2 separate regions of the Homo sapiens genome follow, and region 2 is linked to region 1. Evidence: fine-mapped expression QTL. A gene starts in region 1. The other region holds a variant in brackets. All regions are shown on one strand. Distances are from middle to middle.

Region 1 (2,899 bases):
CTACATGTCCCTAGTCCCCGGGCTGGCCTGGTTGGGTTGAGCAAGAATCTCTGGAAAGAATGAAAGGCAGCAAATGGAGAAAACATTACTGAGAGCACGAGAGCAGGCTAAGGCCGTGGTGGTAAGGGACTCGGGCCTGTGCAAGAGTACCAGGAAGACACCTGTGGGAGGAGGTGGCCGGGTGAAGGAAGGGGCAGTGGGAGGAGCTTCCATGCCTAGGGACCAGTACCACCCCAGGCTGGAAGCCCAGAGTGGAGTCCTAGGACATCAGATCCTAAAGGGCTTGAATACCGTTTAAGGCTTTTCTTCCGGGAGCAAGTAGGAGCCAAAGAAGGGAAGTTGCGGGACTTGTTTTCGTGGGGCCAGTTGCCTGGTGGTTACGCGCCTCTCCTCTGAAGTCAGGCATCCTGTTCCAGAGTATCCTGGTTGCGCTTCAACTTGCGGAGTGACCTGGGGCAAGTGACTTTAACCTCAGCTTCCTCATCTGTGGAGTGGGGAGGGCGCAGCGCTGGTCGCCCTGAACAGGAAGTGAGACAACCTCGGGGTGCACACGCGCAGGCCCGAGCCGCAGGGTCCACGCCCGAGGCGAGGCGGCAGCGGCGCCTGCAGGGCGAGGGGACGAATCGCGATCTTTTTCAGAGTAACCCGCGTACAATAAAAAGTCCCCATGAAAAGGACAAACTAGCCAGGCGTGAGGGGCGGTGGCTCACGCCTGTAATCCCAGCACTTTAGGAGGCCGAGGCGGGTGGATCACCTAAGGTCAGGAGTTCTAGACCAGCCTGGCCAAGGTGGCGAAACCCCCGTCTCTACTACAAATACGAAAATTAGCCGGACGTGTTGGCGCGCGCCTGTAATTCCAGCTACTCGGGAGGCTGAGGCTGGAGAATCGCTTGAACCCGGAGGGCAGAGATTGGAGTGAGCTGAGATCGCGCCATGGCACTCCAGCCTGGGCAACAAGAGTGAAACTCCGTCTCAAAAACAAACAAAAAAGGACCAACTAAAAAAAGAATATAAATACAATAAATAACAGGACTTACGGGGGCAGGCTGACCCCTAAAGTAAGGGGTCGGGCTGGAAAGGATCTCAAGGGGTCAGAGTTTGAGCCGCCGAGGCGCGCGAGCCCCAGCACTCCTAGGCAGCTGCATCCGCCCCGGAAGATCCCCTGGGGCCCTGCGCTGGCTTTCCACAGCGCCATGTTGGACGGTCCTCCCACTTCCCACCTTCCCAGTCCTCCCGCTACTCTGACCGTTCTACCTGTGATTCTCGCTGGTGGAGTCAACCTGGAATGGATTCCCGCCGAACCACGCCTCCCTTTCCTGGTTCGCCCGCAGTTTCGGCCTATCAGGTTGAGTCGGGTAAACCAGGACGGGCCAAGCGGCACTCTCATTGGATATCACTGGTGGGGGCGGGAAGAAGGCGGAGCACGTGCCCGGGCGGAAGTAGCCGTCGCATCGCGGATTACGAAACGCCGCGGAGCTGAGGCAGTTCCGCTGGCTAGTGTGTACGCGGCGAGCTTCTCCCGGCGCCGCCCGCTCGGCTCCCATAGCGCCCGCGACAGCGGTCCGGACGCCGCCCGAACATGGACTCCGCCGGCCAAGGTACCTGCCGGGCCCGGCCCCTTCGCCGCAGATGGGCCCAGGCTGCCCGTTGTTCTCCGTCTCCCGGGGTCGCGTCTGCGACTCTCTGTCCTCTCGGTCTCGGTTCACCCACCCCGCGGCCCCTCTTCAGCTCCCGGGGCCACTGACCTCGAAGCTTATGATGGTCGTGGTGTGTTTTTTGCCCGCGGCCCAGACCGCTTCCTGGGCTCTCTCCAGCCGCCCTCCTGGTCTCCCCTGGGACCGTTCCGAGGTGTGGTTCCCTGGCGCCCGCCGTTGCTCCCGTAGTTTGGGTTCTGTCGCTCCCAGCAGGTCTCGCTTATGCCGCCCACCCCGTGCCCTGCTCTTGCTTGCTCTGCCACCCCCCGGTCCCTGCGCGGGGCCCTCGGGTTCACGCTGTCTGGCCCTGGACCCAGTCCGAGGTGTTGAGGGCGGCTCCCGAGCAGAGAAGGGGTCTTCGCGTTCAGCAGAGCTCCCCTTGGGCAGCAACTCTGCTCGGAGCTCAGCCTGCTTAGGGGTTGCCTCATGGAGAGGGGGTGGAGTGAGTCAGGGGCACACCCAGCATACCAGGCCTGTTTCCAGAACAGTCTCCCCAGAGCAGTATGAGATGGCCACTGAGGGGCGTGGAGCGAGCCCAGGAGATTAAAATCTTGAGAAGATGATAAAAGTCTGCCTTGCATTTTGGGGCTCTAGAGAGGGATGCTAAATTTCTTTCTTTCTTTCTTTCTTTCTTTATTTTTTTGAGACGGAGTCTTGCTCTGACGCCAGGCTGGAGTGCAGTGGCGCGATCTCAGCTCATTGCAACCTCGACCTCCCGGGTTCAAGCGATTCTGCTGCCTCAGCCTCCTGAGTAGCTGGGACTACAGGCACGCGCCACCAGGCCCAGCTAATTTTTGTATTTTTAGTAGAGGCAGGGTTTCACCATGTTGCCCAGGATGGTCTCGATCTCTTGACCTTGTGATCCGCCCGCCTCAGCCTCCCAAAGTGCTGGGATTACAGGCGTGAGCCACTGTGCCCGGCTACATATTAAGCTTTATAATTCCTAGGTGCTGCATTATTCTGGAGGGTGTTTTTTGTTTGTTTGTTTTTGTTTTTTTGAGATGGAGTCTCACTCTGTCGCCCAGGCTGGAGCGCAGTGGCTAGATCTCGGCTCACTGCAAGCTCCGCCTCCCGGGTTCACTGCCATTCTCCTGCTTCAGCCTCCCAACTAGCTGGGACTACAGGCGCCCGCCATCATGCCCGGCTAATTTTTTGTATCTTTAGTAGAGACGGGGTTTCACTGTTAGCCATGACGGTCTTGATAC
Region 2 (2,899 bases), 24 kb after region 1:
AACACCCAGAGCTGTGGTCCTTATTCTGTGCCTGTCAGGCACCACCCTGATTCTCAGGATTCTGTGCCTGTGCCGTGAGGCACTGCCCTGATTCTCAGGAGAGCCCAGAACTGTGGTCCCTATTCTGTGCCTGCGCCGTCAGGCACCGCCCTGATTCTCAGGAGAGCCCTGTTCTCCTTGTGGGGACTCTGGCTGGGTGTCGCAGACGTGCTGGCCTCTAGAGTCCCCGGGCCTGGGAGGGGTATCTGTTTGTGTGGGAGGGACTGAGTGGGATGGAGCTGGCCTGCTTTCTCCTCTTGTCTCCTTATCACTCTGCTGTCCCAGAAGTGTCCTTGGTCTTCCGTTTGCTTCTCTGAGAGATGTGCATGAAGAACTGCACAGACTTTTCATAACTTCAGTACGAGAGCCCAGGGTGTCCCTGTAGGGGACAGCAGAGAGGGGCCGACAGCCCCCCAACTGCGCAGACTTTTCATAACCTCAGTACGAGAGCCCAGGGTGTCCCTGTAGGGGATAGCAGAGAGGGGCCGACAGCCCCCCAACTGCACAGACTTTTCATAACCTCAATACGAGAGCCCGGGGTATCCCTGTAGGGGACAGCAGAGAGGGGCCGACAGCCCCCCAACTGCGCAGACTTTTCATAACCTCAGTACGAGAGCCCAGGGTGTCCCTGTAGGGGATAGCAGAGAGGGGCCGACAGCCCCCCAACTGCACAGACTTTTCATAACCTCAGTACGAGAGCCCGGGGTATCCCTGTAGGGGACAGCAGAGAGGGGCCGACAGCCCCCCAACTGCGCAGACTTTTCATAACCTCAGTACGAGAGCCCGGGGTGTCCCTGTAGGGGACAGCAGAGAGGGGCCGACAGCCCCCCAACTGCACAGACTTTTCATAACCTCAGTACGAGAGCCCGGGATGTCCCTGTAGGGTATGACAGAGAGGGGCCGACATCTCCCCAGCTGCACAGTCAAGGGGTTTCCAGTTGCCTTGTGTGACGTCTGGACCTGTCCCTGTGGTTGTTGGGCATGGCCGACCTCACTTTTGACCTGGGGAGTCTCCGGAATGACCTGGCTGTCTCACAGTTTTGCCATGAGATCTTGGGATGTTGTTAGGGACCCTTTGGAGGCTGGCCCTAACCCTGAGGCCCTTCCGAGTTAGGAGAGCAGCACAACCCTCTCCTCTTGACACCGACACTCTTCCCTCTCTCTTTAAAGGAACTCTGCGACCTTCAAGTCGTTTGAGGACCGAGTTGGGACCATAAAGGTAATTGTACCTGGACTGTTTGATGGTCTTGGCAAGGTGTGACCTGTTACAGCAACTTGTTTATTATTAGTCATTTAGTTATGGTAGACTCACATACAGTTGTGGGAAGTAATGCAGAGAGGTTCCTTGTGCCTTTTACACAGTTCTCTCCTGTGACGACATCTTGGAAAATCCTGTAGTGCAGCCTCCCCACCAGGACATTGGCACTGACTCAGGACACAGAACGCCTCCACACTGCCCTTCCTGGTCCCCACTGCCCTTCCTGGTCCCCACTGCCCTTCCTGGTACCTTCTTGGCCATGCTGACCTTCCTCCCGCCCTACCCCCGGCAACCCCTAGTCCACTCTCCCTTTGTATAATTGTGTCATTTCAAGAATGTCACGTAAATGGAACGATACAGTGTGCAGCTTTTTGGCATTCACTGTCTTCATTTGGCATCGTTCTCTGGAGA[C/T]CTGTTGGGGCTGGTGCCCGTCCGTGATTTGCTCCCTGTCCCTGCTGAGCAGTGTTCGTGTTACATAAGCTTTTGTAGAGCATTGAGCATGGGCCTGGGATCTGCCTTGTGTTGTGTGCTCTGTCTCAGGTTTTTCTGTCTTCATCTTTTCTCTCCTGTAGTCTAAGGTTGTGGGTGACAGAGAGAACGGCAGTGACAACCTCCCTTCCTCAGCGGGGAGTGGTGACAAGCCCCTGTCGGATCCCGCACCTTTCTAAGCCTGTGGTTGCTTCACCCGCTGCAGAGCACACGCAACCCAGCCTCAGCATCACAGCCGCAGCTCTGTTCAGCGGAGCAGCCAGCCAGGGCGGATGAGCAGAGCCGGCCCTGAGGACAGTCCTGCCCATCCACGCGGAGATGTGGCTGCCGCGTTTGCATGAATTTGAAGAACACAGGCTTGTACACAGATGTTTTACACTCACGTTTGTAGATGAAACAGATCACTGTGCTGTCCTTCCTAGGGGTGCAGGAAGTGGACAGGGCGGAGGGTTTGAAAGAATATTGAGCCAAAGCCCAGGCTCCCTTTGGGAATCATGTTAGCCCATCAGAATGTTGAAGGATTGAAGAGTTCTAAGCATAAAATAAGTGGCATTTTCTGACTTCTTCCTCCTCCTCCTTCCCTGACTCACAGAAGGAATGCAATCACCCAGCAAGTCCTACCTGTTACGCAATTTTTTATCTCAAAATGCCGAACGAGAAAACTGTCCATTTTCTGAGACCCCCAGAAAGGAAACTGACCCTCAGCAGCTGCCTGATTGTTACGCGAATCTAGCTTTAACGGAAGCAAATTCATTATTTTTTAAATGCAGTGGACTTTTCAAAAAGTTTAAATTAGGCAAAGCAGCTTTAGCCTCATAGAATATTATTTCTTTGGACTCAAGCTGAAATACAAGCCTTACATTGCCTTATGCTTTATTTCTTTCTAATTTTTATATGTATATAGATGAGGGTTCCTTAATGGTTGTGAGCATTGTGTGGAATTTTACACCTGGCCTGCGTGGCAGCCTCTTCCAGTTGAGGTGTTTTATGTCACGCACACTCCATCCCAGTGTACAAAACCTGCTTCTCTTCTCAACCGTGGCAGCTCCCGCTGGCTCCTATGCCCTGCCCTAAAGGGCTCTTGAGCCTCTGGGAATGGGAGGGGCCAAGAGA

What was found.
Region 2: its variant is fine-mapped to the expression of TPD52L2 in whole blood (INTERVAL, PIP above 0.99). The same link has a PIP of 0.9 or more in sun-exposed skin.

What each region holds. Positions count from the first base shown.
Region 1 is chr20:63,863,787-63,866,685 of GRCh38, forward strand. It overlaps TPD52L2 (TPD52 like 2), which reads left to right and starts at 1,484. Exons shown (of 7, transcript NM_003288.4): 1 at 1,484-1,598. The coding sequence starts at 1,580. It overlaps ABHD16B-AS1 (ABHD16B antisense RNA 1), which reads right to left and starts at 1,287. Exons shown (of 2, transcript NR_165314.1): 1 at 1,038-1,287; 2 at 1-484. RefSeq lists enhancers at 212-441, 535-1,734, 774-1,494, 2,216-2,899 and a silencer at 902-951.
Region 2 is chr20:63,887,981-63,890,879 of GRCh38, forward strand. TPD52L2 (TPD52 like 2) reads left to right here. Exons shown (of 7, transcript NM_003288.4): 6 at 1,210-1,258; 7 at 1,870-2,899. The coding sequence ends at 1,965. Among named protein-coding and RNA genes, the nearest start is that of DNAJC5, 5.7 kb to the right of the region's middle. The variant C/T (reference allele first, on the strand shown) is at 1,709.